Linked DNA regions of Homo sapiens. The protein of the gene in region 3 interacts with the protein of the main gene of each other region in a pairwise test. Each region holds a gene or a part of one and is shown on either strand. Other genes may lie near its edges. The genes, in order: CMTM2, BIK, CYB561 and SLC19A3.

Evidence for each region.
Region 1: the proteins of CYB561 (region 3) and CMTM2 interact in binary tests that used the Homo sapiens proteins (3 or more experiments, as listed by UniProt).
Region 2: the proteins of CYB561 (region 3) and BIK interact in binary tests that used the Homo sapiens proteins (3 or more experiments, as listed by UniProt).
Region 4: the proteins of CYB561 (region 3) and SLC19A3 interact in binary tests that used the Homo sapiens proteins (3 or more experiments, as listed by UniProt).

The regions. Positions count from the first base shown.
Region 1 is NC_000016.10:66,574,983-66,583,027, reverse strand, and holds the start of CMTM2 (CKLF-like MARVEL transmembrane domain-containing protein 2), read right to left. Parts: upstream 3,566-8,045; 5' UTR 3,421-3,565; coding exon 3,136-3,420; intron 3,003-3,135; coding exon 2,844-3,002; intron 1-2,843. Other genes in the region: CMTM1 (CKLF-like MARVEL transmembrane domain-containing protein 1), read right to left, coding at 4,027-4,197, 5,826-5,924; CKLF-CMTM1 protein, read right to left, coding at 4,027-4,197, 5,826-5,924.
Region 2 is NC_000022.11:43,113,201-43,120,926, reverse strand, and holds part of BIK (bcl-2-interacting killer), read right to left. Parts: intron 1-7,726.
Region 3 is NC_000017.11:63,442,958-63,451,030, forward strand, and holds the start of CYB561 (transmembrane ascorbate-dependent reductase CYB561), read right to left. Parts: upstream 3,350-8,073; 5' UTR 3,288-3,349; exon of another isoform or gene 2,941-3,287; intron 1-2,940. UniProt on the Homo sapiens protein: Transmembrane reductase that uses ascorbate as an electron donor in the cytoplasm and transfers electrons across membranes to reduce monodehydro-L-ascorbate radical in the lumen of secretory vesicles.
Region 4 is NC_000002.12:227,693,607-227,701,332, reverse strand, and holds part of SLC19A3 (thiamine transporter 2), read left to right. Parts: intron 1-224; exon of another isoform or gene 225-282; coding exon of another isoform or gene 283-420; intron 421-1,768; coding exon 1,769-2,597; intron 2,598-5,251; coding exon 5,252-5,444; intron 5,445-7,726. UniProt on the Homo sapiens protein: Mediates high affinity thiamine uptake, probably via a proton anti-port mechanism. Has no folate transport activity. Mediates H(+)-dependent pyridoxine transport.

The DNA.
Region 1 (8,045 bases), on a different chromosome or scaffold from region 3:
TTGTCATATTGAACTAAGGTCTCTATCACAATGTTGAATACAAGAGAAGCTAGTAAGCATCTCTAAGGAAATGCTCCTGAAGTGTCACCTAAAATACAATTTGTGCAGGTTTGGATAGATGTCTATTTTATTTTATTTTATTTATTTATTTTTTGAGATGGAGTCTCACTCTGTCGCCCAGGCTGGAGTGCAGTGGCACGATCTCGGCTCACTGCAAGCTCTGCCTCCCGGGTTCATGCCATTCTCCTGCCTCAGCCTCCTGAGAAGCTGGGACTACAGGCACACATCACTGTGCCTGGCTTCTTGACACCTCTTTTATTATTTTTTAGACAGGGTCTCACTCTGTCACTCAGATTGGAGTGCAGTGGCACCATCAGAGCTCTCTGTAGCCTTGACCTCCTGGGTTCAAGCCATCCTCCCACCTCAGCCTCCTGAGTAGCTGGAACAACAGGCATGTGCCACCATGCTTGGCTAATTTTTAAATTTTTTTGTAGAGACAGGGTCTCCCTATGTTGTCCAGTCTGGTCTCAAACTCCTGGACCAAAGGGACCCATCCACCTCAGCCTCCCAACGTGCTGGGATTACAGGTGTGAGCCACCACACCCAGCCCAACAACCACTGATGGATGTTCTCACTCATTGTTCTGTCTCAATCTCTTATTTTCTCTCTCTCTGTGTGCTGTGTTCTGGGTAATTTCCCCATACCTTTCAGTTAACAGTTCCCTCCTTCAGCTATGTCTGATCTGTTTTTGAATTCATCTATTGACATTTTTATTTCAATAACTATATTTTCTATTCTAGACACTGTACTTTTTAAAAATCTGTCTATTTTGTCCTCATAGTGTCTTACTCTTTTCTCAGGACTCTTATGTCTATAATCCCTTAAAATATATTATTATTTTCAGACAGCTCTTCTATTATCTCATATTCTCAGGATTCTAATCCATTTGTTGTGTTTGTTGATTCTTAGTAATGGGGATTTTTTAAAATCAGGTGTTTAGTAGTTTTGAATTATTAGTTCATTTTTGACAAGGTTTTCCCCCCACCCCCACTGTGAGAATCTCTTCATGCCTTGATTGTGATTTTGCATTTGTTTCTATCAGGAGTCCAAGGATATCAGCAGAATGTCATCAGACTGGGATCAGTTTTTATGGTAATTCCCAGGGATGAAGGTTTCTGGGCTGCATGAAGGTTTCTAGGCTGCAGATAACAAAAATTCAAACTCCAATCTGTACAAAGGGCAGGCTTAAGCTTTCTATTTCTCAAGGAAGACTTCCTCTCCGCCCACTCAAAGCTCAGGCAGAGATGAACATGTTTTCTTATTCCTCTGTGTTGGGAATAAGAAGGGTATGTGTCTTTGTCCATCTTTTCCCTAAGGAGGTAGTCTTTCCAGGGCGCTGGCTTTATACAGGGTTTTCAGTTCTAAATTCCCACTTTGCTTAGGATCAAGGCCTTATTTCCTGACTTGAGAGTGCATGAAAATCCAGGCTGTAGGTTCCTGAGACAATACCTCTTGGACCATTCCCACTCATACTTTGTAGCTTATGTGATCACTGCCCTGTTTGCCATTTCTGGCGCCTGTGTGTTTTCATTTCTTTTTTGCCAGCTCATTCATTCAGTTAAAGCAATACTGGTTACATTTCCCCTGGTATTTTTAGGTAAGCACAGTGGGAAGATGTTCAGGGTTCATTGGTTTTTCATCTTGCTGGAACTAAAAATGTCTTCTCAGGCTCCTTGTTTAGGAACTTGTCCTCTGCCTGTCCTTTTACCTTGTCCTCTGCTTGTCCCTTTTCTGAGAGTCCTTATTTGGCCCTCCTGTCCTTTCTCCCTGTATCGGAGGTCCTCATCTGCTTCACCAAGACCTCTGGATCCCTGGACCCTAATAGTTTTTAACAAGAAGGCAGGATGAAATGTACTCATAAAGCTAAGTTTGAAGCTTTTTTCTGCTACTTACCAGCTGAGTGACCTGGGGGCAAGTTACTTGGCCATTCTAGGCCAATTTCCTCATGTGTAACGTGAGTGAAACAGTGAACAAGAGGGCTCTGGAGGCAGGCTGTGAATGTGCAATGAACAAAGGGACTTGGGAATTGGGGTCTTCATTGACTGGCAAGGGGTTAGGTGGTTGTGCCCTGTGGTTAAACAGGTGATGGGCAGGGATTCAATTCCATGAGTCCTCAGGCACGGTGTCAAGCAATTTACATTTAATCCTCAGGATTGAATGTCAGTTCTGCAAGGAATGTGACTGTCTCATGTTACAGATGAGGAAACAGGCTGGGAATGGTTTAGTAACTTGCCCAGTTCTGTCTCTTTCCACTAGATGACTGCTTTGGGCTGAACATCCTTCTGATCCAAACATCCTTTATAGGGATATTCACTGGAGACCTAACGCTGCTTTAGAAGTGATTTTTAAAAAAAATTCCCATTTTGTTTTATTTTATTGACTTATGGGAGAGTAATTTTCTTCTTTGAATTTTGGGAATGGGGTCCTTCTGGGGTGATCTCCTGTCAAGTGTGAGCTGGCACAGGAGTTCGGAGGAACAGCTGGTTGCTACACCTCCCCTTCCCCTAAAGAGAACAAAGGCTCAGGCCCTCTTTGACCACCAGGTAAGTAAGAGTTCCCCACTCTCACTCCAACACACAGATAGGCTTTTTGGAGCATTTTCTGCCTAGCTACCCCTCTTGCACCCAGCTGCCTCTGCCTGGGCCCCACTGATGTTCTGAGTCCCTGACCCAGGCACAGATATGGGAGGTGAGGTGTGTCTCTCTGTTTGGTGACTTTCCAGGTGCCAAGACACACCTGATCAGCATTCTGGATGCAGGCACTCCCCATCACCCCTTACTTACAGAAATGGGCCACAGGATGAAGGGTATGTATCTATGAATGGCAAAGCTGTACAGTAAGATGAAGAAGCTGAAGAAGGATATCTCCATGGTGATGATAAGCCTCAAGATGGGGTGCACGGTGAGTGAGGACAACAGTATCATTGCAGCTATTAGGCAGCCCTGCAGTGAGACATAGACACCTGAGCCAGCAGCAAGGGCCTTTCACCATCTCTCTGAGGACCCCTGGAGCCTACTCCTCCTTCCCCCCACCCTCGGCCAAGGCCCCCCACCCAGGGATACCAGTTTAGCTCACCAAACTCCGAATCTTGATCTCAGCGTGCCCCAAGAGCCAGAACTCTTTATTGCTGTCTTTTAATTCCCACCGGTAGCGGCGACACCCCCTCCTCGTGCCCACTTCGTGCTTGGGCTGCACCGCCTTTTGAGGTTTGTCCGATGGCTCCTTATGGTCCTGCACCGCCTTTTGAGGTTTGTCCGATGGCTCCTTACCGTCCTTCTTGTCTTCCTCGGGTTTGGCCCCGGGTGGAGGTGGAGCTGGTGCTGGCTCTGGCTTGGCCCCCTTTGCCGCCTTAGGTGCCATGACTGACTCGGTGTCCTTGGCTTCTCACAGCTGGCCTGTTTCTTCTCTCTCCTGCTGTTTCTGGGTAGGCCAGGCCTACTAGAGTGCCTGGTGTCCACCGAGCGGCTCAGAGGGCGTGCTCAGCTAACTGCCAGGACCACCGAATGCCAACTCCCGCGCCCTCTCCACGCGCGCCCGTCTCCTCGCGCAGCTCCCATCCGCCCGGCAGCGGCCGGATCCTCCCACCCTCCACGCGCCGGCCCCCGACGGGCCCCAACTCCGTTCCCAACCCGCCGGTCCCACCTCCGCGCGGAGCTGCCCTCGCGGTCCCATCCCGGCGTCTCCAGGTGGCCCCAGGTCTGTAAGCCGCCGCTCCGCTGCGGGGTCGGGGGGCTGCGAGCACCGGGTCACGGCCCTGAGCTCCGCGGGCGCAGCGCCAAGCGCAGGAAAATACAACGCGACTTTCACACAAGGCAACGAGAGGAAGCAGGTGTTCTCGATAAAAGCAGCAGCCCTAATTTTATGGTCACATTTAGGCTGGAATGGGTGACAGCATGCGAGCTCGGGGGTGGGCTCGGAGGCAGCGATTCGACAGACACGTGCATCTGCTAGGGCGCCGGGCTGGCTTCAGGCGGGCCTCTGCGGGGCGTCGGGGCCGGTTTCGGGGTAGGCGTCCTTGGCGGGGGAAAGCTTCCTTTCAACTTCGACTCCCAGGAATCTTTTCAAGTTGGTCCTCATCTTCGTGGTGACCACAAACGCATCGATGCAACACACGATTACCGCTGTGAGACACAGGGACTGTCAGATACAAGACCATATGCGGGAAGGAAAGACGGGGTTATTTTGCAGCTCAGTAGCAACCTCTCGAACCTATCCCTATCCAGGGTGGGCGCTGCGGGTGGCCTCCTGTCCCCTCTGACCCTTCACTACTTTCTTGGCGCCTGCCCAATTGGCTGCTGCAGGCGGATTCTGCCTTTCCCAGAAAAAGGGATTTTGGAAGTGGGGGATTTTGTTGCCAGTAGTAGCCTCGCTTGATGTCTGAGGCACCCGGAAAGGACTAGGGAAGGGCAGTGGCCCTAGGTGGCTGCAGGTAGGGGTTAGGTCCTGAGAAGCCCTCTCCGTGGAAAGACTTTTGGGCTATGTTTGCAAAGGGCAGGAAGGAGTTCCTAAGGGGAGGAGGAGGACCCAGGCACTGGACTAGGGTCTCTAAGGAATCTGGTGTGGCCAGGACCTCCAGAGCCGCTGAGAAGGGGGCAGAGTTGAGGCTGGAGAGGTGCAGGATCTGGGACTCTATCAGGAGGTCAGGTGTGAGATTCAGAAAACCTGCTTGCAGTGTTCATGAGGTGAATGGAAGGTGAACCAGGCTGGAGGCAGGAAGACCAGTGCGTGGTGGGGTGGGATGCTGCCATCCAGGTAAGAAATGGATACCTGGGGGTGGGAACCCCTGGCAGTAGAAGGAGTGATAGCGGAGTCAGCCGATGGGGACCAGGGGCTGATGGCACAGATATTCCCCTGTGCACTCCGGGACTCTTGACAACCTTGGATGTTTCTCTTTATGGTCACTTAATTCCTGGCTGCTTAATGAGCTTTTCCTAGGTATGTCTTGCCCCAGTGAATCTGTGAGCTTCCCCAAAGGGGAAAGGGCTCTATCCCCAGCACTGAGCTCATGTCTGGCACAATCAATGGGATTGACAGATATTTATTGATTATAGAATGAATTCAAATGAACTCTTTTTCTGCATTAATTTCTGTTCTCATTGTTTAACTTCTTGAACCAAAGCCCTACCTCCCCTCCCAACCCCCTGAATCTTCCAAGCATTTGATCTGCCATTTCTTTTGAGTCCCAATTTGTCCCAGTCTTGTGGCCCAGAGCAAGGTATTTAACCTCAGTTCCTATATCTGTACAAATGAGAGTTGTAAAGATTAAGTCAGAGTGTGCCCTGCTTGGTGCAGGGCATATACTGGGCACTTCAACATGTGGCAGTTTCCTTCCTTCCTTTCTTCCTTCTTTCCTTCCTTCCTTCCTGAATAGGCTGGATTCCTCACTTTAGACAGTGCACTTTTCCCCCCTTACAATCTCTCTTATCATCTGTCTTTAAAATACAATTCTCTAGTCCAGAAAATCAAAGTCCTATTTATAGACAAAAAGATCTTGCTTAACATTTCAAAAATAGTGTCCACAATTCTCAAAAGGGGTTTAGCAGACTCTTGTTTTTGTACCTATTTGGAGAATGCATGTTAGAATTAAGATTTTCATGAGCTCAGAGTTTGTGCAACTTCATATCACCTGAAGAAGTCAGTGCAAGAAGGAGAGTGGGTGGCAGTGGGGATTTTGCTTGGTTAATGATATAATGGGGTCTGCCAATTTCCCTTTTCAAAGTCTTGGAATACTGATCTTAAATGGAGTCATGAAGGCCTCTACTTACCCCCCCGACATAGAGTAAATGCCTTCTTTTCTTTTCTTGCATGGCCAAGATGGCAACTACTGAAAGGAACACAGCTGTAATGATACTGTTGGTAAGATCCTGTAATAAAGAATTGAAAATTATCAAGTTTACACAACAATATAATTTCACAAATATTTAAACTGGTCAATTACACATCTAAGAATAGATGCCTTTAAAAAACCTTCCATTTGATTAAGATGAGGAGGAACCTTCAGAGGCATAATTCTTACATCGTCCAGAGACATGAGTTTATGTGGTTTTAAGATCCTAGATATGACTTTGTCTGTAGAAACGGGTTTATTTTCATTAAAGAATACCATTAGAAAAAAAGCTAACAACTTTTTCCTTAAAGGGAATAGGAAAGTGAGCATGAAAAAACCTGGTGGTCAAGGGGCCTATCCCAAATTGGCCCTCCATAAATGTGATTTTTTTTGGGAAGTCTTATATTTTTTAATGTAAATTCTGCATTCTATTCCATAACTCATTTGTTTTAATATAAAAATAAAATTTTAGATGAGCACTTTAATTATTGGTTTACTTCTTCTCCCAAATCTGCAGGTAAAGCCAACGCTCTGGAAATTGGGCCACATTTATTCTGTGAGTTCATGTGTCCCAAGAGCATATGAACTCATCTGAGGAGCAGGCCTGATATTCTGGAGTGAATGTTTTTTGCTCTTTCCTGAAACATGGCCAGAATTGGGTGTGCCCCGACATCTGCAGGCTCATTGTGCTCCTTCTTCTGGGTTTCAATTGGATTTCAGTCCTGAGTTCTTTTTTTTTTTTGAGACAGAGTTTCGCTCTTGTCACCCAGGCTAGAGTGCAATGGTGCGATCTTGGCTCATTGCAACCTCCGCCTCCCAGGTTCAAGCAATTCTCCTGCCTCAACCTCCTGAGTAGGTGGGATTACAGGTGCCTGCCACCACACCCAGCTAATTTTTGTATTTTTTAGTAGAGACAGGGTTTCTTCATGTTGGCCAGGATGGTCATGAACTCCTGACCTCAAGTGATCCACCCGCCTCGGCCTCCCAAAGTGCTGGGATTATAGGCGTGAGCCACCGCGCCCGGCCAGTCCTGAGTTCTTTAACTGCTAGCCCAACCTGCTTCTTTGTGTGCTGAAATGAATAGTGAGGATGAGTGCGTGGCAGTGCCCTCCTGGGTGAGCAGTGGCTGGGTTTCCTTAGCAAAACAATAATGGAGGAACGAGTACACAGTGTGTCAGTGGCAGCAGTGTATGGCTATGGGCAAAAGCCCAGAGGACATAACCACAATATGGGCCAGAGAGCTAATCTGAATAGCTCAAGTCTTTGAGTGTTGATGGTCTGCCTTGGTAATGGCAGCCTTTCTGGCACACTCGTCCAAACACAGCAAGAAGCACTGCCATCCAGTGTATGGTATCATGGAATCACAGTGGCTCCAATGGAGCTCTTTGATGTGTCAAGCATTTCCCAGTCCATCATTTAACCTCATTTAACCCTCACAAAGCAGCCTCCAAAGTCAGAATTGCCATCATCCCCAGTTTACAGAGGACATGGTGGAGGCTTGGAGTTTTTCAGTTGCCTAGGATTGAATAATGGGTGGAATCAGAACTCAACTCACTATTGCCTCCCATGAGGGACACCCAAATAAGGAGGAAATGAGCTATTCTCCCAGTCTGGAAGTGCAGCATCCAATCCATCTTTGGCATTTTCTGTGGAATGGGTCTGGAGGGTCAAAATGATACAGTACCAGTCAGTTGAGTATTTTTGTTGATGAACTCTTTTGGCCTGCCAATTCCTAGATTGGGCGTATTTTATCACCCATCTGCCAACTTGCTAATTTGTAATATGGGGATAATGACTGAGGTTCATTGGCTCTGAGGATTAAATGGCATAATGAATCTGAAAGCATCTGATAACATGCCTGGCATCTAGTAGCTGGTGGGAGTGCATCAAAATGTAGGTTCATATCTGCCCTCAAAATGTTAACAGATAGTAAACTCTCTGCAAACTCCAGATGTTCTTCCTATTGGGGCTGGCGACCGAGGAGCCCTCTTGTGGAATGTGACTTGCCTCTTGGAAAGGCACTAATGCCTACTGTTTTGGTGCCTGGTAGTTAATGCTGGAACAGGGGTATGTAGCAGGGCTGGTGGAGGTTGGAAGTAAGTCCCAGCTGGGTTCTGCAGGCTGAGCGAGAGGTCTGCCCATAGTGGGCAGGCCTGAC
Region 2 (7,726 bases), on a different chromosome or scaffold from region 3:
TGGGATTACAGCACTTTGGATTAATTTATTAAATACCCATTACCCTCTACCACAAAGAAGGGACCTAATCTGAACCTTTAACCATCTGGCCTCTGGGCCCAGGCCCTCAGATTGACTTGATATGAATGGCAAAGATCCCATCACCAACTGGGCCTAGGCTGGCCTTAGGGCCCAGATCTGCATGGGAAAAGTGTGGAGCCAGGGAGCGGAAGGTGGGGAGCCTGCCCAGGAGGGTCCTTGCAGCAGCGACCTCCTGCTCTGGTCTCTCCTGGCCACCCCACCAGCCCAAGGGAGGCCCAGTCCTGTCAGCTCCTACCTGGCACCAGCTCTGAATGCCTTACTGGTCTCCAGCCTTCAGTGGAGCTCTCTCCAACCTAATCTCAAGGTAGCAGCCTCAACCCTGACCCTGTCACTGCTCTGTTCGGCTCCCTAGACCTGGCCTGGTGCAGTGCGGCTCACGCCTGTAATCCCAGCACTTTGAGAGGTGGAGGCAGGTGGATCACCTGAGCTTAGGAGTTTGAGACTAGCCTGGCTAACATGGTGAAACGCCATCTCCACTAAAAATACAAAAATTAACCAGGTGTGGTGGCGCTCGCCTATAATCCCAGCTACTTGGGAGGCTGAGGCAGGAGAATCACTTGAATCCAGGAGGCAGAATATGCAGTGAGCCGAGACCGCGCCATTGCACTCCAACCTGGGTGACAGAGCAAGACTTGTCTCAAAAACAAGTGGGGGGTTGTGCCACATCCACTAACAGGCCCTCCCCCTGTGGCCCTGCCACCCCAATCTTGGTTCCCGCGCTAACCACACTCAAGTATGCTTTCCATGGATGGTGCCTGGTCCTGCCATGCCTCCAAAGTCTTCAAATGTGCAGAGCTCACCAGCCAACCTCAGACCGGCCCATGCCTACGCCTATTGGTCCTTTTTTAAAAATTAAATTTTATTATTATTTTTTTCACAGACAGGGTCTCACCCGTTTGCCCAGGCTGGAGTGCAGTGGCCTGATCATGCTCACTACAGCCTCAAACTCCTGGGCTCAGGTAATCATCCCACCTCAGCCTCCAGGGTAACTCGACAGGTATGTACCACTGCACTTGGCTCATTTTTATAGAATTGCTGTAGAGATAGGGTCTTGCTTTGTTGCCCAGGCTTGTCTCGGAACTCCTGGCTTCAACTCCCGCCTGGGCCTCCCAAAGTACTGAGAGGATGGGTATGAGGCTGGCCTATTCGGGCATCACCTTCTTGGACCCTCAGAGTCTGCTTGGGGGCCTCCTGGGGGTCCTGCAGCCCCTGTCTCTGCTCCCCTCTGGCTCCAGCTGACCACTGCACTCCAGGCTGGGCTACAGGGCAAGACTCCATATCAGAAAAAAAAAAAATTAGAATGGAGATACTAGTAACACCTATTGCACAGGACTGTTGTGGGGATGAAATGATCCGGCACAGAGTAAACCGCTAAGAGAGGGGCTGCTGCTCTTATCAGTTTCTGGTTGTCAGCCCAAGGCCTGGCATAGAGCAGACATATGTTTGTTGACTGAAGACATGAAGGCAACCTATTCCCAGAGGACCCACTGTGAGGTCACTGCAGCTGCAGATACAGGAAACTGGACTGGTTTTTATTATCTTTTTTTTTCCAGCAAACTTGCAAATGAGTAGTTGAAACCCTTCTTTGGTGAAGGAAGACACACCTAGCCATGTGTCCCCACCCAGGCTACAGCCCGCACTTAGCCTCCTACACACTCACCAGTGGAAACACCAGGCGCCAGTCAGAAGCCCTATTTTACCCTAAGAGGTTAGGATGCAAATCTAGTATGTGCAGAAAAGAGTACCACACCCACGGCCTTGAGGGCACCTGCAGGGCTCCGAGTGGGAGGGAGGGCAGGTTCTGGACAGAGCAGCCTACATTTGGTGAACAGCTCTGCACTCGACAGCTCGCCTATGGCTCATCTGGAAGATGGGGAAACGCCATCTACCTCCCAAGCCCCTCCCAGGTTGCCCAGAAGCACAAGCAAGTAGAGATGTGTTCTGCTCAGCCCTCAGCAGGTGTTCGAGGGCCGAGGCTGCAGGAGTGTCAGAGCGGGGTTGGGGGCAGAGGTGGATGGGGCTGGACCTGAGGATGAGGTCGAACTCCTGGTAGGGACCCTCAGACTCTCATGACCTCGCCCAGTCCTGTCAAAGCCAAGCAGGCGGGATCTGACACTTCCTGTTTCACAGGCAGGCAAACCGAGAGGGTCAGGGGCCACGCTGGGGTCACAGGGAGGGCCAGCTGAGTGGGCCCAGCTAGAAAACCCTGGTCCAGTCTTCCACGTGCCACCCTCCCAGTCACAGCCTGGCCCTGGACCATGAGGGTGGGGTGGCACAAAGCCCTTGGAGCGCACACAACTCCAGTGTAACCCAGCAGGAAACGCCCTGAGCCTGCAGCCAGGCTGGACCTCAGTTCCACCCCCTGCTCGGCCCCTGCTGTGTGAGGCAGAACAACCAGCTCACCTCTGAGCCTTGCAGAAACAGCCGGGCCTCCAGGGCTGCTGAGAGGATGAAAACATACACTACTGCCCATTTTCCACCACCTAGCAGGGGCTCCATAAAAGCTGGTTAACACAATCAACAGCCTTAGAAGAGAGGAGACCAGAGGCCACTCACAGCTCAGGACGCCACGGTGGACTGAACATGTTGCTGCCTTTCTGGAGGGTAGTGTGACCATCAGCATCCACCAGTCACACACGCACATGACCTTTGATTTCTAGGGATGCATCCCACACACACCCCTGCATGGACCTGGCAGCCTTGAAAAATTGAAGCCATAGATCACAGGCACCGCTGTGCTGTCATCACAGCCCTTCGGGAGGCCGAGGCGGGCACGTCGCACGAGCCCAGTTCAAGACCAGCCTGGGCAATACAACGAGACCCCCTCTCTAAAAATAAATTAACAATAAAAAATTTTAAAAATATATGAAATGGGCCAGCCGCGGTGGCTTACACCTGTAATCCCAGCACTTTGGGAGGCCAAGGTGGGCAGATCATGAGGTCAGGAGTTCAAGACCAGCCTGACTAACATGGTAATAAAACTCCGTCTCTACCCCGTTTCAAAAAAAATTAGCCAGGTGTGGTGGTGCGCGCCTGTAATCCAGCTACTCGGGTGGCTGAGGCAGGAGAATCGCTTGAACCTGGGAGGAGGAGTTTGCAGTGAGCCGAGATCACACCATTACACTCCAACCTGGGCGACAAGAGCGAAAAACTCCATCTCAAAAAAAAAAAATATGGGCCGGGCGCGGTGGCTCACGCCTGTAATCCCAGCACTTTGGGAGGTTGAGGCGTGCAGATCACAAGGTCAGGAGATGGAGAGCATCCTGGCTAACACAGTGAAACCCTGTCTCTACTAAAAATACAAAAAAAATTAGCTGGGCGTGGTGGCGGGCGCCTGTAGTCCCAGCTACTCGGGAGGCTGAGGCAGGAGAATGGCTTGAACCCTGGAGGCAGAGCTTTCAGTAAGCCGAGATCATGCCACCACACTCCGGTCTGGGCGACAGAGTGAGACTGTCTCAAAAAAAAAAAAGAAAAAGAAAAAAAAAAATCCGTAGTATGTACCTTGTTTCCTCAAGTTTCAAGAAAAAAAAAAGACAGCTCACTTTTTTCTCTTTAAACACTGATGTGTAGCTAGTAACTTGGATAAAAAGGTGCCACCCTACAAAATGTGCTCAGCGTGTTCTGATTCCAGGATGGGCTTGGCTGCCTGGGCTGGGCCTGGGAGACCTCCGTCCGTCACAGTGGAAACTGAAGCCAAGTGCCAGTGCCGCATCCGGCTTCAAGATCTAGAATCAGAGCCTTTGAAATGGAAAAGGGGCATCTGAAACGGCACCCCCACCTGCGGCTTTCAGAGCTAAGGCTCCAGAATGAAGGGGTCACCTGGCTAGTGACAAGATGGGAGTCACCCTGAGCTGCAGCTCCCCCCAAGATTCCCCTGTGAGAGGCCCAATATGGAGTATTACTATTTTGAGACAGGGTCTCTCTGTCACCCAGGCTGGAGTGCAGTGGCATGAACATGGCTCACTGTAGTCTCCACCTCCCTGGGCTCAGGTGATCTTTCCACCTCAACTTCCCAAGTACCTGGGACTACAGGTGCACGCCACCACACCTGGCTAATTTTGTATTTTTAGTAAAGACGGGGTTTCACCAGGCCGGGCACGGTGGCTTACGCCTGTAATCCCAGCACTTTGGGAGGCCGAGGCGGGCGGATCACGAGGTCAGGAGATCGAAACCATTCTGGCTAACACGGTGAAACTCTGTCTCTACTAAAAATACAAAAATTAGCCGGGCGTGGGGGTGGGCGCCTGTAATCCCAGCTACTCGGGAGGCTGAGGCAGGAGAATCACTTGAACCTGGGAGGCAGAGGTTGTAGTGAGCCGAGATTATGCCATTACACTCCAGCCTGGGTGACAAGAACAAAACTGTCTCAAAAAAAAAAAAATGCATTTAATACATGTAACCTACCCAACGTCACAGCTTAGCCTTTTGGAGGCTCCCAGCACTTTAAGAGCACAAGGCGAAAGGATCACTTGAGCCCAGGAGGTTGAGGCTGCAGTGAGCTGTGACTGCGCCACTGCACTCCAGCCTGGGCGACAGAGTGAGACCCTGTATCAATAAGTTAGGGGAGGAGATTTTATTCTATGTCCTTTCCTGTTCGAACACCTATAAAAATAATCCTAACCGTAGAGGAAGTCTAACAGACTAATAATTCTCTTGACTGATTTTGAAATGACCCCAAAAAGGGGAAGCCTGTGCCTTTTTATCACCATGAAGGAAGCAGAGAATGCCAAGCCACCACCTGGGCCTACAGTTGTTAAGTTTCAAAAGTTCATATTTAAAACAAGTTCTGGGCCGGGGCGCGGTGGCTCCCTCCTGTAATCCCAGCACTTTGGGAGGTCAAGGCAGATGGATCAACTAAGGTCAGGAGTTCAAGACCCCCCGGTCAACATGGTGAAACAGTGTCTCTACTAAAAATACCAAAGTTAGCCGGGCGTGGTGGCGGGCACCTGTAGTCCAAGCTACTCGGGAGACTAAGGCAGGAGAATCACTTAAACCTGAGAGGCAGAGGTTGCAGTGAGCCAAGATCGTGCCACCGCACTCTAACCTGGGCAACAGAGCAAGACTCAATCAAAAATAAAAAATAGGCCAGACGCGGTGGCTCACACCTATAATCCTAGCACTTTGGGAGGTTGAGGCAGGTGGATCAACTGAGGTCAGGAGTTCACAACCATCCTGGCCAACATGGCGAAACCTCATCTCTACTAAAAATACAAAAACTAGCCAGGCGTGGTGGCGCACGCCTGTAATCCCAGCTACTAGGGAGGCTGAGGAAGGAGAATCACTTGAACCCAGGAGGTGGAGGTTGCAGTGAGCCGAGATCGCGCCACTGCACTCCAGCCCCCGCGACAGGAGTAAGGCTCCATCTCAAAAAAAAAATAAAACAAGTTCTGAAATGCTGAGGCTGAAGAATATGAAGACTGCTCACCCTGGCCCCGACCCTGAGGCTTGAGAGGCAGGTACGGCCCCTGGGCTCCACTTCAGTGTTTGGGTCTCCCCTATGAACTTGCACCCAGCCCTTTCACACCCCAGCTCCTCCTTTACATCCTCCCTCTGTTACCAACATCCCCCAGGCAGGCACGGGGGACTCACTGCTTCCTTGGGGCTCAGGCACAAGTCACTTCCTCCCCACCCTCCCCAGGACAGAATTAAATGCTCCTCATCTGTGTTGTCCCAGCACCTTGGGTAAACAGACCTGGATTGGGCACTCAGCCCATCAAGGTCTCGTTAAATGTTTACCTGTGTGTCTGCCCCAGCCAGTCGGGAACCTGCATGGCCCCAGAACAGAGCAGGGACCCAGTGAAAGCCGGTGAGAGGATGCAGACAGCCTGAGAGTTCACTGCAAAATCCTGAGAATGAGGGAAGGGGTTACTCTGGTGCTGGGCTCACGATGGCAGGCTGTTCCTGGCTGGGAGACCCTGGACTGGACAGTATCACCTTCTGTTAAAGGGCAGGAGGGAAAGCCCCATGGGCAGATGTAGCCCTGAGAAGGAGGTGAAATGCTGCATGCATGGTATGCAGTAAGTGCCCACTAAGAGGCAGCTCTCATTCTGTGAGCCTGTTGCTCTGCGAGGCGCACACCCGTGCTGACCACCTCACGGTCCGAGCTCGGATTTATCTTCATGATGCGCCATTGTCTGCACAGGGAATTTCAGCTCCTCCTGGAATCAGGTAGCTCTCTTTGCCCTCACATGAAAGGGAGCCTCTAATCTCGAAGATACTGTCACACACAATAAATGTCATCTCTTGGCCAGGCACGGTGGCTCGCACCTGTAATCCCAGCACTTTGGGAGGCTGAGGCGGGCGGATCACAAGGTCAGGAGTTCAAGACCAACCTGGCCAACGTGGTGAAACCCCATCTCTATTAAAAATACAAAAATTAGCCTGGTGTGGTGGCACGCGCCTGTAATCTCAGCTACTCGGGAGGCTGAGGCAGGAGAATCACCTGAACCCGGGAGGCAGAGGTTGCAGTGAGCTGAGATCACACCACTGCACTCCAGCCTGGGCAACAGAGCAAGACTCCATCTCGGGGAGGGGGCGGTCAAGAATACTTGATCTTAAATATCCAAAATGACAGGGACCCTCACTCAAATAAACAAGTGAGCTTTTCTCTCTTTGCTGCATGGCTTTTCAGTTTGGCTAACTGGGTGCCAAGTTCTGTCCCACCCCCAGAAAAACAGGTTTACCATGCAGTGCCTGGCGAGGCCCAGTGGTGTTTTGTATTGTCACATCCTAATATTGACACTAGGAAAATCAGCTGCCCTGTGTGCCCGCCCCTCTCCTGCCTGCCTCGGGGCCAACAAGGAACTTAGGGGCCACGGACTGATTTGCTCACATTCTATGTTTCTCCCAGGGCCCAGCCCCAACCAACCAGTGGCAGGACAAAGGGAGGCTAGGAAGTGGCCACATGTGTCCAGTTCAGACACACTGCTGGCTTCCTGGTGACCACCAACAGTAAGACTGGTGCGGAGACTTCCTCCATACGGCTCAAACTGTTCTGAGCACAGACGGTAGTCAAAATCTCATGGGATCCGCTAAGTCTGCAGCAGGGGAAGCAAAAAGCCATTAATTGTCTACACATTTAATAGGTTCACTAAAAACAGGATGCTTTCCAGGGAGAGGGGAAAATACCACCAGCAGTGGTGTCAGCTTCAAGACTCACTGGCCAATCAAGCCCTTCCTCAATTACATCCTTCCGTTGAGACGGGATCAGAAATGGGGGAAAAAAAAAGTACACGGTTATGAGTAGTCTCTGGTTTATCTGCAGCTCTGTGACACAAGACGTAATTTTTTTTTTTTTGAGATGGAGTCTCACGTTAGCCCAGGCTGAGTGCAGTGGCACCATCTCTGCTCACTGCAATCTCCGCCTCCTGGGTTCAAGCAATTCTCCCGCCTTAGCCTCCCAAAGTGCTGGGATTACAGGCAAGTCAAATGTGTAAGAATCTTGAGCCGGGTGAGGTGGCTCACGCCTGTATTCCCAGCCATTGCACTCCAGCCTGGGCAACAAGAGCGAAACTCCGTCTCAAAAAAACAAACAAACTTACAATAACTAACATGTATGCAGCCTCTCTATCCAGCCATAGAGTACCCAAGCTGTAACAGACACTGGGGATCTACCATTTGATGCTTTTTTAAATTTTCTTTTGAC
Region 3 (8,073 bases):
GAGCAGGGGAGGCTGGGAAGCGGGCAGCCTGGGCTGGCTACAGCCCTCCTTATCAACAGCAGAGTTTGAATTGAGTTAGGAAAGACTGTGACTGCGGAAAGGCCGATATCTCTTCTTGATGGGTGAAGGGGAAAACAGCTCAATTGCCCTAGAGCGTCCTAGCATGTGATGAAGGAGAAAGCAAAGTGTGGTGTGAGCTATTAGGGTACTTTCTTAGCACCCCAGTAGCCCCAGGAAGAAGGGGCTTCCCAGGCAGTGCTCCCCATCCCATGCCAGTCCTCCTGCATCCTCCCCACGCTTGTACCAGCATGGCACTAAGCCCTGGTGCATGCAGAGACACCAGGCCCTGACCAAAGGGTAAGAGAGAAGGCATTACAGGAGGGTGAACAAGCCGCAGGGGCTGCATTTCCATTTATCCTAGGGCGGCTGTCCTGGCCCAGGCAGCCCAGGGACCCGGGGTATCCAGGCTGCTTGGACCAGGTACCAAGGAACTAGGTACCCAGGAAGCAGCAGAGCCTGAAGTCAAACACTGAGCTCCTTTCTCCCACAAGACAGAGGGCTCCCAATGCTTACAAACCAAAATGTTTCCATTTCCATGAAAATCAGAAGAAAAAAATGAACATTTAGGGTTGAGGAAAATGTTGCAATTTTTTAAAACTTATTTTAATTAATTTTTTTGTTGTTGTTGTTAACAGTGTCTACCTCTGTCACCCAGGCTGGAATACGATGGCATGATCATAGCTCACAGCAGCCTCGAACTCCTGGGCTCGAGGGATCCTCCCACCTCAGCCTCTCAAGTAGCTGGAACTACAGCTATGCTGAAATGCCCAGTTAATTTTTTCTTTTTTTGGAGAGATAGGGTCTCACTATGTTGTGCAGGCTAGTCTCAAACTCCTGGTCTCAAGCAGTCCTCCTGCCCCAGCCTCCCAAAGCTCTGGGATTACAGACAGACATGAGCCAGCCCTAAAATGTTTTGTTTTTAAAATTAATTGTAATCCAGTCTGGACTATACTTGTATTTATACCAATGCAGTTGTAAAATATAATTTTTATTAATTTTTTTTTTTTTGAGGCTGGAGTGCAATGGCAAGATCTCGGGTCACCGCAACCTCTGCCTTCCGGGTCCAAGCAATTCTCCTGCCTCAGACTCCCCGAGTCTGGGATTACAGGCGTGCTCCACGATGCCTGGCTAATTTTTTGTATCTTTTGTAGAGACGCGCTTTCACCACTGCGCCGGGCCAATTGTTATTATTTTTTTTATGGAAGACGGGGCCCGTGAAGGCCAGAGGGCCAACGGCCCATGAAAGGCCCAGCGCAGCCCAGGTTAGAGAGATGTGATTTCAAAACAGACTCATTATTTATAACCATCAGCTCCTGGACAAGCCAAGTCCCTTCTCCAAGCCTGCTTCCTAATCTATAAAGTGGAGGATATCTGGAGCTACCTTATTGAACACAGAAGGAGTAAGTGGATAAAGGTGTGCCAGCGCCCAGCACAGTGCCTGCCACAAAGTAGGCATTCCATCAAAGACCAATCTTACAAAAACGAAATCTGGTCCTAAGAGCACCTTAGAAAGAGTCACACTGCTGACACATGAGGTTTGGGGCCACAGAGAGCCAGATGGCAGCCGTCTCTAATAAATCTACACTCCATTGCTGTCCACCATTAGCCCCTGCACACCAAGCAGAAGCTCCTGGGGCTGGAAGAACACAGGATGGTCTGCTTTTAATCTGTGACATTGTATATTCCCAAAATTCATTTATGAATTGTTCAGACAGTAGAGTGCTTTTTCCCAGTGAAGCTACGCTTTCAGAGGGGGTTAATTTCTCATTCCCCTCCACCAATGCCATCTAATGCCACTGAACCATCCCAGTATTAGCAGGAGCCCAAGCTCTGCCTGCCAAGGAAAAGTGGTGAGGGCAGAAAAGTAGTAGGACAAGGCTGGGCACGGTGGCTCACGTCTGTAATCCTAGCACTTTGGGATGCCAAGGCGGGCAGATCACTTGAGGTTAGGAGTTCGAGACCAGCCTGGCCAACATGGTGAAACCCCGTCTCTCCTAAAAATGCAAAAATTAGCTGCGTGTTGTGGCACACACCTGTAATCCCAGCTACTAGGGAGGCTGGAACAGGAGAATCGCTTGAACCCGGAAGATGGAGGTTGCAGTGAGCTGATATTGCCCTCTGCACTCCAGCCTCCTGGCAACAGAGCAAGACTCCATCTCAAAAAAAAAAGAAGGAAGGAAAGTAAGGAAAGCAAGAAAGCAATAAAGCAAGAAAGAAAAGGAGTGGGACAAGCAGGGTGGTTCCACCTCCAGCTCTAGGAGGCTCCCTCATGCAAGGAGGTGGGGCTGCCACCGCCTCGTATTTTCCTGCCTCCATCAAATTTCACCGGGAGAAATCCAGGCACCTAGAGGAGGTGGCAAAGCTTTTTTTTTTTTTTTTTCATTAGCTATTAAACCAAAGGGGCAGAATCTAGGCGCCCTAGATGTAACTTCATTTACGGAGTCAGAAAATCCACAAAGGCTGCCAAGGTGGAATGAATGAGAGGAGGACGACCAGAAAGGAGAAGTCTGGGAAGGGGACCCCAGATCCACACGGATGATCCTCGCTCCGTGATACAGTCGGGGACAGGGCAGGGAGGGAGGGAGGGAGGGTGGCCCTGCCATCTCCCAGGTGTCAAGGTGGCGGCAGCTCCGCCCTCAGCGCAGTTGGCACCGGCCTGACCCACCACAGGGCCACCGAGGCCACCGAAGCCATGGGGCTTTCCCACTCGGGAAACTCCCACCCTCGCGCTCAGAAGCTGGGGGCGTCGGGAGACACAGGCGGGGACCTGCGGCTCCACGTTGCAGCCCGGGCCCTGCTCGGGGCAAGAGGCGGTGGCTCCGGTTTCAGATTTCAAGAGGGCAGCCGTGGCAAAGGCTGGTTGGTCCATTTGCACCCTACCTTGCTCTAGAACGCGGCGCAGGAGCAAAGATCCAAACTCGGGGTCACCAGCAAGCGGGGGTCTCGGTTCTAACTTCAGCAGAGACCCGGCACCCGGGCAGGCCAGGGCAGGGGCCGCCTGGACCGGGAGAGGCTCGGCTCCGAGAGGGCGGGCGAGCCCTGCAGCCCTCGGGCCCAGGGTGCGGGTCGGCGCCGCAGTCCAGTGCGCGGCCGCAAGGGGCAGGTGCGAGGCCGGCTGCTACTCGGGAGCCCCGCGCTGTCCCTCCCTGCGCAGTCAGGGCTCACCTGGGCCGCCCCCGCCCCGCACCCCTGCGCGCTCCGCTCCCACCCCCAGCCCGGCCTCCTACCTTGCCTACCCGAGCGTCCCTTCAGCCTCCCCGCGCCGCGCCCGGGTCGCTTGGCCGGTTCTGCGGGCCGTGGCGCGACGGCGTCGCCATGGCAACCGGGCGGCGGGCTGGGCGGTGTCTCCGGGACCGGAAGTGGCGTACGCGGCCCCCGGGGCTGCCCCGCACGTGCCAGGTCCCCGCGGTTGCGGCCACGCTCGGGACCGGGCCCTGCCAGCTCCGGGCCCGCACGTGGGCGAACCGCGGCCACCGTGAGCCCGGCCTCGCGACCTCCCTCCGGGGCCCCCATGATCGGGGGTGCGTGGGATCTGCGGCCTGCGGGGGTGGAGGGCCGGGAGCTCCCCCGGGCCTGCCTCGAGGGCCGCGGGATTCGTCCTTGCGAGCCCCGACTGCGCACGGAAGGACCTGGGGTCGGCCAGGCCTGGGGGATGGGACGGGCCCCGAGGAGAGCGGGTGCCAGGGGCGAGACCCGCCGCCCTTCCCCGGCTTGGTCCCGCGCTTCCTGATTTTCTCGCTCCACGCCTCCCATTCTGCCCTCCACCTTCTTCCCTGCCCCGCCCTCGCCCTGCCCGGGCCCAGGAGGCCACTAGATGTCAGACCCGGTTCGGGCCTTGGCCACGCCGCCGCTCCGGGAGCCCTGGGGGCACCTCCCCAGCCCCCACGGGGGAGACGATACTGCCGGGAAGGCCCGGACTAGCCCCCGCCCCCGCAGAGTAGCCTTCGGGGAACACCGATTCCACCAGGCTCTCACGAAAGCCGAGAGCTTGCCGTCCGCAGCTTCCCCTGCCCAAAGCGCAGAGAAACGAGGGCGCCGAGGCCAAGACCAAGACCGGGAGCCAGCCCCTTCGGAGCCCGGTCCAGGCCCCCGGTCCAGGAAGTGCTGTGGGTAGATAAGGGGCCCAGCTCAGACTTCCTACAAGCTGGGAAGAAAGGGTTCTTTCCTGTCTGATGCCGGGCCAGATGTAGCAAGCGCCTAGGGGTAGGAGGGAAATGGGGTTTCCTCCCCGCAGAGGGAAACCGGCCTCCATTCAGGAACGCCCTCCCCCACCTGCCCTCCAGGCACCGAGGTTCTGGGAGGCCGGGGGGCAGGGAGACCTGCTTACTTGAATGCGCTTTGTGTATTGCCTGTGTATTGCCACAGGCAGTGGGCAAGATAGGCCCTGGGGATCCAGTACTCGCTTAGTACACAGAGAGCAGTCTCCAGCGCCAGGCGAGACGCACAGGCGTGTCAGCTGCATATGGCACACGGTGGCACATGGCACACCTTCCACGAGCAGACACAAGGGGCCGACACAGCAGGGCCCACCCCCTCAGAGGGACCAAGCTTAAACCCTCCAACAACAGAAAATTTGTAGAGTATCTTTCAGTTGGAGGAAATTAATGGATAATTTAAAGTAAGAAACAGTTTCCTTAGCGTGCTAACAGGCAGAATCCCTGTGGATTGAAGGTGGAACTGAGCCATGTCCTTTGTTTGGTCTGTGGATTTAGACGTGGAGGAGGAGTCCTGACCGGCTGAGCAGGGCTGAGTTCCCTCGTGAGAGCCCCGGGCCTTCAGCCCCTTCCAAAGCCAGGAGAGACTCCTGCTGAGGGGTGATAGGGGCCCTTTGGCTTCCCCCTCACCCCACGGCCCAGCAGCACGGGGCTGCAGGCTTTTCCCTTAGGAGGAAGAGCAGCCGCCTCCCTGCCAGCAGTGTTCTCAAGGGCCTGCTTCAAGTGGGGAGGGGTGGGTGAGGGTGTTCTGACTGAGGGAGAGGCCTGCACACCCGCTGCATGGGGGGGCTCATGGCTACACCTAACCCATTTTAAAGAACAGGCAACGCCACCAAACTGCTCTCTGGCACTAGGGCCCAGAGGCCTTGCCCCAGCTCCCAGATGTCCCAACCCAGGACGACAGACACCCAGACTAACTACCTTGCAACCCTGTTCCTGCTGCCGAAGCTCCTGCCTTGGAAGCCTGAGAAGTGTGCAGTCCTTCAGCTTGGGAAAGGTGGGAAAGGAGAGGACCCCTCCTGCCCTTTCTTGAGTGGCACAAGATGAGTTCCAGGGCCTCCTGAGTTGTGCTAACGCCTGTAATCCCAGCACTTTGGGAGGCCGAGGCGGGCGGATCACCTGAGATCGGGAGCTAGAGACCAGCCTGACCAACGTGGAGAAACCCCATCTCTACTAAAAATACAAAATTAGCCGGGCGGGGTGGCACATGCCTGTAATCCCAGCTACTCCGGAGGCTGAGGCAAGAGAATCACTTGAACCCAGGAGGCAGAGGTTGTGGTGAGCCAAGACCGCGCCATTACACTCCAGCCTGGACAACAAGAGCAAAACTCCGTCTCAAAAAAAAAAAAAAAAAAAAAAGGAAATGCTGACTGTGTTTCCATGTTTCCACTCCCTTCCCACATCGCAGAACCACGCTAGCCTTTCTGTTTTCAGATGCACCAAGTTCACTCCCACCTCTCCATGGAATGTTCTTTCCTGGATCATCTCTGGTCACATTCTCTCAAATCTCAGCTCAAACATCACCTCCTCAGGCCTTCCCTGACCATCCAGAGGGCAGCTGGGGCAGGGATTAGGAGGTAGGAGTGCTCCTGGATTCCGCGTGCTGGGCAGCCAGGCCTAGAGTGCCCCCTGGTCTCTGACAGAAAGCATTTAAGGAGGAGGAAGCATCAAGGAAGCAGGCAGAATGTGAATAGAGAGCTGGAGACTCAGGCCGTAGACCCACCTGGCACCTGGCTAGTCACTTCTCCCTTGCTAGGGTTACCAGATTCAGAAAGAAGAGGAAAAAATAAAAAAAGGCTTCCCAGTTAAATTCAAATTCAGGCCGGGTGCGGTGGCTCACACCTGTAATCCCAGCACTTTGGGATGCCGAGGTGGGTGGATCACCTGAGGTCAAGAGTTCGAGACCAGCCTGACCAACAAGGTGAAACCCCGTCTCTACTAAAAATACAAAAATTAGCTGGGCAAGGTGGCAGGCACCTGTAATCCCAGCTACTTGGGAGGCTGAGACAGGAGAATTGCTTGAACCCAGGAGGCGGAGGTTGCAGTGAGCCAAGATTGTGCCACTGCACTCCAGCCTGGGCAATGGAGTGAGACTCCATCTCAAAAAAAGAAAACCAAAAAAAAATTCAAATTCAGTTAGTTTTTTCAGCATGAGCATGTCCCAAATATTACATGCAGTATACTAAAGATGTATTCCAGCTGGGTGCCATGGCTCATGCCTGTAATCCCAGCACTTTGGGAGGCTGAGGTGAGCGGATCACTTGAGGTCAGGAGTCCAAGACCAGCCTGCCAATGAGGCAAAACCCTGTCTCTACTAAAAACACAACAATTAGCCAGGCATGGTGGTGGATGCCTGTAATCCCAGCTACTGGGGAGGCTACGACAGGAGAATGGCATGAACCCAAGAGGTAGAGGTTGAAATGAGCCAAGATCATGCCACTGCACTCCAGCCTGGGGTGACAGAGAGAGAATCTGTCTTAAAAAAAAGATGTATTCCTCACATGTGAGCAGATGTCCTGTGTTTCATCTGACAATCCTACTGCTCTTGCTCGGGTGTGGGAAGGGCAGGGGCCCAGTTCTAGCCCCTCCCAGCAATGGCTTCCTCCCTCATCTCTGAACCAGTTAACCCTCATTCAGTAGGGACTTCAGGCAGAGGCCCTGACCTTGGGCAGCAGAGGATACAAAGGGATAAGAGATGGTTCCCCAGTCCTCAGACACTATAAGATTCAAATGCACACCATTCATTCTTGGGAAAGTTTTATTTTTGTACCTTCTCTGTGCCAGGCACTAGGTGAGGTATTGGGGAACAGTGAACAAGACAGGCACCACCCTGTTCTCACAGGCCTTCAGTCAGGGGAGCTGCACAGAGATTTGGGGAGAGCCTTTGAAACTACTCTGCCCAAGCCCATCTCTGACCACCTTACAGAGGGAAAACCAGGATTAGGTACAGGGCATAGGAAGGCCCTCAACCCAGATGTGAGGGTCAGGGAAGGCGTATTGGGTCATGACAGAATTATCGAGCCAGAAGATGCTCAGGTGTTAACCCGGCAGAGATAGTCAGGGAGGAGGCAGGAGTGTCCCTGGTTAGAGGAGCAAGGATGATGCAAGGGAAGGCTGTAGGGGGCTAACCTGCAACCCTCGGGGCTCCCAGGCTTATTTTCATGAGGATTTGCCGGAGCCAGAGTAATAGTGCAGAACTGAGCCACAGCCTGCAGAATCAGCACTCAGGAGCCAAGCCCTGTCCAGCTCAGGAGGGGGCCTGCCCTGAGGGACCTCACAATTGACAGACACAGCCCCCGACCCCATATCCTGCAGTGGAGCAGCCTTAAGTCCGCAGGTATCATCTTCCGGGCCTGCTCCCTGAGGAACTTGAAAGTACGAGGCTACTTTGATGAGCTTAAAATAGACCAATTAATCACTCAGGGAGGAAATCCATCTCCCAGCTTCGGGGGAGGGGACAGGAAAGCAGTAGCCCCGGCAGGACCCGTCAGAGCAGCCAGCAGCACAGCGGCCATGTGGCAGGGCACCTGCAAGGCTTCCGGAGCCACCGACGAAGACCCTGAGTCACCTGCAGCCTCTGGAGTGTGGGGGGAAGGAGGCTGAGGGACGTCATTGCCTGTGAGTTGTCACCCTGCCCCTGGTTAACCCCAAGGCTGGTCAGTCTGGGAAAAACAAGACAGACAAAAGAGCCAAATACCACTGGGGCAAGAGGGAGGGAGAGGCCATGACAGAGAGGACAGTTAAGCCACCTTTTTTTTTTTTTTAAGACGGAGTTTCGCTCTCCTTGTCCAGGCTGGAG
Region 4 (7,726 bases), on a different chromosome or scaffold from region 3:
TCTTTATAAGAAGTACAACAAGAAAATGCACTGACCTAACTGCAAAATTACCCTGGGCTGATTTTACAATCTCCAGCCTTAGCCTTGAAAACACTGTGTAAAGTGTGTGGCTTCGCCTGCAAGGCTGATGGGTGCCTCGGGTGGTGAGGTGGCAAAGACAGAAAGGCAAGCTTCTTCTGTAGCATCAGATCACTTAGGGACAACCCTGTTTCCGAGTTGCTCAGGTTGAAGCATGCCACAATTAAGACAACAAAGGACAGATGCAGGGTCAGAAGCAACTCAATGAATCCACTGGGTTCTGCTTCTCGAGCCACTGTGGACCAGTTAACAGACCTTCCCTCCAAGGAGCAGCTCAGTTGTGTGGTCTTTGCTCTGTGGCCTCCTGCTTTCTCCAGCAACCTCAGTGATCCAGGTGTCAAGGTGGGTACGTTCAGTGATTTGAGAGGCTGCGGCACTCACCCATCCCTACAGATCAGCAACTCCAGTCCTTCCAACTGTGAAAATTGAGATCCCATGCATTTCTGACTAAATCTGTGAGATGATCCATATTAAATTGAGCCATAAACAAATCAGCAGAATTGTTAGGGGGAGCAGGGGGAAGGTTGGGAACCTAGCAAATTTGCCCATGAAGGAAAATGAGATACATTATTTGCTTCCACTCTATAATGTGGCAAAGTTATTTACTCTTTCCCTATTTTCCCATATCTTTCCAGATGTTGGAAGGGCTGAAATATTTGATGTAGTGATAGATCACATGAAAATAAAGGCTGTTGGATTCTTTTTGTTGTTGTTGTTCAGATGGAGTCTTGCTCTGTTGCCCAGGCTGGAGTACAGTGGCACAGTCTCGGCTCTCTGCAACCTCTGCCTCCTGGGTTCAAGCGATTCTCCTGCCTCAGCCTCCCAAGTAGCTGGGATTACAGGTGTCTGCCACCATTCATGGCTAATTTTTGTGTTTTTAGTTGTAGACGGGGTTTCATCATGTTGGCCAGGCTGGTCTCGAACTCCTGACCTCGTGATCTGCCTGCCTCGGCCTCCCAAGGTGCTGGGATTACAGGTGTGAGCCACCATGCCTGGCCTGGATTCTTTTAACATTGTGGTCTACTTGTCTAATGTTAATATTCAAACAAGAAGGAAATTATATTTTTTAAGAATCTTGGGCCGGGCACGGTGGCTCACGCCTATAATCCCAGCACTTTGGGAGGCCGAGGTGGGCGGATCACCTAAGTTCAGGAGTTCAAGATCAACCTGATCAACATGGTGAAACCCCGTCTCTTCTAAAATACAAAAATTAGCCAGGCATGATGGCGGGTGCCTGTAATCCCAGCTACTCAGGAGGCTGAGATGGGAGAATGGCTTGAACCTGGGAGATGGTGGTTGCAGTCAGCGAAGATCGGGCCACTGCACTCCAGCCTGGGCAGCTGAGCAAGACTCCACCTCAAAAAAAAAGAATCGGAAAATCTTAGAAGTGTCCAAAAACTTTTTAACTCATCTACTCAACTGTACATACTATCTAAACTTAATACATAATTCAGATTGCACAATAAGCCAATATATTTTTCTGCCGGGGTTTATCTAAGTGTGTACATTGGTTTTTACCAATGGGAAAGGAGACTATCTTTTCTTGTGATTTCCTTGAAAATCAGTTTTCTCATTATGTTTCTCCGTAATGCGAATAATTTCCAATTGGAGGCAGAATTTGAGATACAAACCACAGGTACCTTAGTAAAGTACCGGTGCTTCGTGGTCATGCAATTTACCAACTTTGCAGATAACAAATGAGATCTTCCCCGTTTGGACATACTCCTACCTGGTGCTGCTGCTGCCTGTGTTTGTCCTCACCGATTATGTCCGCTACAAGCCAGTCATCATCTTGCAAGGTATCAGTTTCATCATTACCTGGCTGCTGCTGTTGTTTGGCCAAGGAGTGAAGACCATGCAGGTTGTAGAGTTCTTCTATGGGATGGTCACCGCCGCCGAGGTGGCCTACTACGCCTACATATACAGCGTGGTCAGCCCCGAGCACTACCAGAGAGTGAGCGGCTACTGCAGGAGCGTCACGCTGGCCGCCTACACAGCAGGGTCGGTGCTGGCTCAACTCTTGGTATCCCTGGCGAACATGTCGTACTTTTACCTCAACGTCATATCCTTGGCCTCTGTCTCCGTGGCTTTCCTTTTCTCACTTTTCCTACCAATGCCCAAGAAAAGCATGTTTTTTCATGCAAAACCCAGCAGAGAAATAAAGAAGTCATCAAGCGTGAATCCAGTATTAGAGGAAACTCACGAAGGTGAAGCACCAGGCTGTGAAGAGCAGAAACCCACATCAGAAATACTCAGCACTTCAGGGAAGCTGAATAAGGGCCAGCTGAACAGCCTGAAACCAAGCAATGTGACTGTGGACGTTTTTGTGCAGTGGTTCCAAGATTTGAAGGAGTGCTACTCCTCAAAACGTCTTTTCTACTGGTCTCTATGGTGGGCTTTCGCCACAGCAGGTTTTAACCAGGTTTTGAACTATGTTCAAATCCTGTGGGATTACAAGGCGCCATCCCAAGATTCTTCCATCTATAATGGGGCCGTAGAAGCTATTGCAACCTTTGGAGGTAAGCAAATGTCACTTAATCTTCCTTTGTTGGCTTTACCCGCTTAAGTCCATTCCTCCAGGTACCGAACTTCATGGCAGCGAATTAGCTCTGTTCAGAAGGAAGCATAACTTTTTTCAGTCAAGAATGAAAGTCACGGCCGGGCATGGTGGCTTATGCCTGTAATCCCAGCACTTTGGGAAGCTGAGACGCGTGGATCACGATTTCAGGAGGTCGAGACCATCCTGGCTAATGCAGTGAAACCCCGTCTCTACTAAAAATACAAAAAATAAAATAGGTAGGCGTGGTGGCGGGCACCTGTAGTCCCAGCACTTTGGGAGGCCGAGGCTGGCGAATCACGAGGACAGGAGATGGAGACCATCCTGGCTAACACGGTGAAACCCCATCTCTACTAAAAATACAAAGAAATTAGCCGGTCATGGTGGCGGATGCCTGTAGTCCCAGCTACTTGGGAGGCTGAGGCAGGAGAATGGCATGAACCTGGGAGGCTGAGCTTGCAGTGAGCCTAGATCGTGCCACTGCACTCCAGCCTGGATGACAGAGCGAGACTCCTCTCAAAAAAATAAAAATAAAAATAAAAAGAATGAAAGTCACTGGAAAAATAAGAATACTGTGACTTTCTATTGTGTTGTAGTTACAAGTAACTTTTTTATTTTTTGAGACAGAGCCTCACTCTGTCACCAAGCTGGAATGCAGTGGTGCGATCTCAGCTCACTGCAACCTCTGCCTCCCAGGTTCAAGCTATTCTCCTGCCTCAGCCTCCTGAGTAGCTGGGACTACAGGCACGTGCCACCATGCCCAGCTAAATTTTTTTGTATTTTTAGTAGAGACGGGGTTTCACCATGTTGCCCAGGATGGTCTCAATCTCTTGACCTCATGATCTACCCGCCTCAGCCTCCAAAAGTGCTGGGATTACAGGCGTGAGCCACCACGCCCAGCCACAAGAAGTAACTCTTAGGAGCTCAGGGATTAGCACCAAACAATGAAATTCTAGTTGAATCCCTAAGATTCCAATTCATCATTAGCACAAAGGTTAATAACATGCCCTGTTCTTTTAGGATTATTTTTAATATCAAAATATATACATATATGTGTATATGTTTTCATTATTTTAGAAAATAAATTAAGGATTCCAAATTCTCACTGAGGGTTTTGTTAATACAGGATTTGAACTAGCTAGCATGCACCTATAACAATTCTAGGCTATACACCAACAACTTTCAAAAGCAGCTTTCTCATGGTATTTAAATGAGGGCTGGAAGAGATGTGAAAGTCAGGATTTTAATATCAGAGGGAAATCTGTCTTTGAAGTTTAATCTACAATAAATGTTTATTTCCTAGTAACTGGAAGCTTAAATGTCAAATGAGACTTTGAAGATATTTTTTAGGAAGTGAGAATTCGCCCCACCCTCATTTACAAAAAGTTTTAGAAAACCCGTGTGACCTCTATTTTATTATTATCTCCCTTTTGGGAAGCTTCAGTTTAACTCCTGGAAACCAGGACTGTGCCAGAATTGCTTCACTGAAATTATTGCTCCTACATTCCAAATCCATGGGGGGAAAAATAGTTATTTTTTTTTTCCTCTGTGGTCATGATCACATGTGGGAAAGTTAGTCATATGTCAATGTAGTAATTTGAAATCTAAATACCTTTTGTTTATTTATTTATTTTAGACAGAGTCTTACTCTGTCACCCAGGCTGGATTGCAGTGGCATGATTTCAGCTCATTGCAAACTCTGCCTCCAGGGTTCAAGTGATTCTCCTGCCTCAGCCTCCTGAGTAGCTGGGATTGCAGGTGCCCGCCACCATGCTGGCTAATTTTTGTATTTTTAGTAGAGCTGGAGTTTCACCATGTTGGCCAGGCTGGTCTCTAACTCCTGACCTCAAGTGATCCACCCCCTTCAGCCTCCCAAAGTGCTGGGATTACAGGAGTGCGCCACTGTCCCCAGCCCTAAATACCTTTTACCTTTGTTAAAGAGAACCACACAAAAGTGCTAACCCTAATTACTGTCAATTATTTCAATTTCTTGAACTCTGTAAGTCTATATAGATATTTTCACCCAAAGCTTCTCAAGTAAATTATGTCAGATGTTGAAGACTTTAGAGTGGAGATTGGAAATAAGACTAAGATTACTAAAGGTTCATAATAAAGACTAAAACTGGGTAGGGCAAGAAAAAAGACTAAAACTTTCAATGTAACACATCTGATACTCATCACTGAAAAAGACTTACAGCAAAAACTGAGAAAAGAAAGGCAAATAGAGAGGCCAGTGTATTCCCAGAGAATTTATTTCATCCTTTTCCATCCCTGCATGTTGTACTGAGTGACTAGGTTAATGTATCATTTCTCCTTACACTGCTGTGGTTAGGAACCTTTCTGGCCCCTCTGCAGAATACAGTGTCTGGCGTGTAGTTGATGCTAATTAAAAGTATGGTGACTAAGTGACCGAAAGAATAGCAAGTGAAAAGAAAAGCCAAAAGAAGACACGCTTGAGAAAAGGATAGATCCACATTCAGGTCGATCACACAATTTTGTGAAAGCAATATATTTATCTTTCAGAATTACCCGAGACCTGGGTTTTTAAGAGAGGGTGTTGATATTTTCCTGCATGCAAAGTCATTATGTTTGATTGCCTTCAATGTTTTTTTTCAGGGGCTGTGGCTGCCTTTGCAGTGGGTTATGTGAAAGTCAACTGGGACCTTCTGGGAGAGCTGGCTCTGGTGGTCTTCTCAGTTGTCAATGCCGGTTCTTTATTTCTCATGCATTACACAGCCAATATCTGGGCGTGCTATGCTGGCTATTTGATATTCAAGTCCAGCTATATGCTTCTTATAACCATAGCAGTGTAAGTTTTACCAACCACTCCTAAAACTGAACTGTATTCCTCTCTCTTCTGTCTTTCTAAACTTTCTCTAAGAACTTCAGAAGGATTTTAGTCAATTGCAATATTAAATGTTGACTGCTTTATATTAAATTAGACACAACTAAGCCAACTTTTCATTTAACTATTTGCTCTCTGAATATTGCTACAATATACCTTAAGTCATCAAGGGAAAAAACTCTGTAGGTTTATAGACCAAAAGCAGTGATACATTGTCAGGTTTTTCTTTTTGTTTTATTTTGTTTGAGAGATGGCCTGGCTCTCTTGCCCAGGCTGGAGAGCAGTGGTGCGATCACGATCAGGACTCAATGCAGCCTTGACTTCCCAGGCTCAGGTGAGTCCCCAACCTCAACCTCCTGAGTAGCTGGGATGACAAGCATGTGCCACCATGCCTAGCTAATTTTTCGTATTTTGTAGAGATGGGGTTTCACCATGTTGCTCAGGCTGGTCCCAAACTCCTGGGCTCAAGCGATCCACCTGCCCTGGCTTCCCAAAGTGCTGGAATTACAGGTGTGAGCCACTACATCTGGCATCATTGTCAGGATTTGATTTGTTTATTTCCAGCAACTTTCTACATAAAGTGTGATGTGATCTGCTTTCAAATGGTTAGGTTTAGATTTCATTCCTACTTTCATTTGTTTGCTTGAGAAATTCTAAGCACATACTTTTATGACACAAAAGATTCTCAGGAAAGTTATTAAAAAGTTGGATACTAAAAAAAGTAGATGCAAAGATAACAAGAAACCTTTAGCTGCAGTCGTGTATGGAACCAAGCAGTTTTTCTTTTCTTTTGTTCTTTTTGAGACAGGGTCTCACCCAGGCAGGAGTGCAGTGGTGCAATCATAGCACACCACAATCTTGATCTCCTGGGCTCAAGCAGTCCTCCCACCTCAGCCTCCTGAGTAGCTGAAACTACTGGTGCACACCACCATGCCTGGCTAAATTTTTAATTTTCATTTTTGTAGAGACAGAGTGTCACTGTGTTCCCCAGGCTGGTCTCAAACTCCTGGGCTCAAGTAATCCTCTGGCCTCAGCTTCCCAAAGTGGTAGGATTACAGGTGTGAGCCACCACGCCAGATCTAGTTTTCAGTCATTTTCTAAAAATAATTTCTGGGATTTAGAATTTCCCGTCATTTTTGCTTCTACTTTTTTCTCAGAGATCTCTTTAAGAAAATGATTAAAAAACCATTCGGTTTCATATAAAAGTACAGCTAAAGCTGACTACAGAAAATATGCTTTGCTATTAACCAAAAAAAATGAGAAACATTTGAATTTCAAATTGCATGAAAGAAGTGGAGACAAAAGCTTCATCAAGTTTTGCTTTCAATTTGTGAAGAATGTTTTATAAACAATTTACAACACAGAAATATGAGCACTCTGGGAAAAAATCATCAAAGGAAAAAACAATTAGTTGGTATGTTTATTTTCTTCATGGAAATGTCTTAATTTAATCAGAATCATGTATCTTAGGTTGCTTTTTTTTAAATGTGAAGATTTTGTTAAAGTAGGATTATATCATTTCTTTGCATTAAAAAAAAATATTCACGGCTGGGCACAGTGGCTCCCGCCTGTAATCCCAGCACTTTGGGAGGCCAAAGCAGGTGGATCACCTGAGGTCAGGAGTTCGAGACCAGCCTGGCCAATATGATTAAACCCCGTATCTACTAAAAATACAAAAATTAGCTGGGCATGGTGGTGAGAACCTGTAATCCCTGCTACTGGGGAGGCTGAGGCAGGAGAATCCCTTGAACCTGGGAGGCAGAGGTTGCACATTCTCATCAGCATTTATTGCTTGTTTTTTGGATAAAAGCCATTCAAATTGAAGTGAGATAATATCTCATTGTAGTTTTGATTTATAATTCTCTTATCAATGATGTTGAGCACCTTTTCATATACCTGTTTGCCATTCGCATGCCTTTAAAGAAACATCTGTTCAGATTTTTGCCCATTTTTAATCTGATTATTAGACTTTTTTTCCCTGTAGAGTTGTTTGAACTCCTTATATATTCTGGTTTTTAATCCCTTGTCACATGGGTAGTTTGCAAATTTGTTTTTCCATTCTGTGGGTGGCCTCTTTCCTTGGCTGTGCAGGAGCTTTTTAACTTGATGTGATCCCGTTTGTCCATTTTTGCTTTGGTTGCCTGTGTTTGTGGGGTACTCAAGAAATCTTTGCCCACTCCAACGTCCCAGAGAGTTTCCCCAATGTTTTCTTGTAGTTGTTTCATAATTTGAGGTCTTAGATTTAA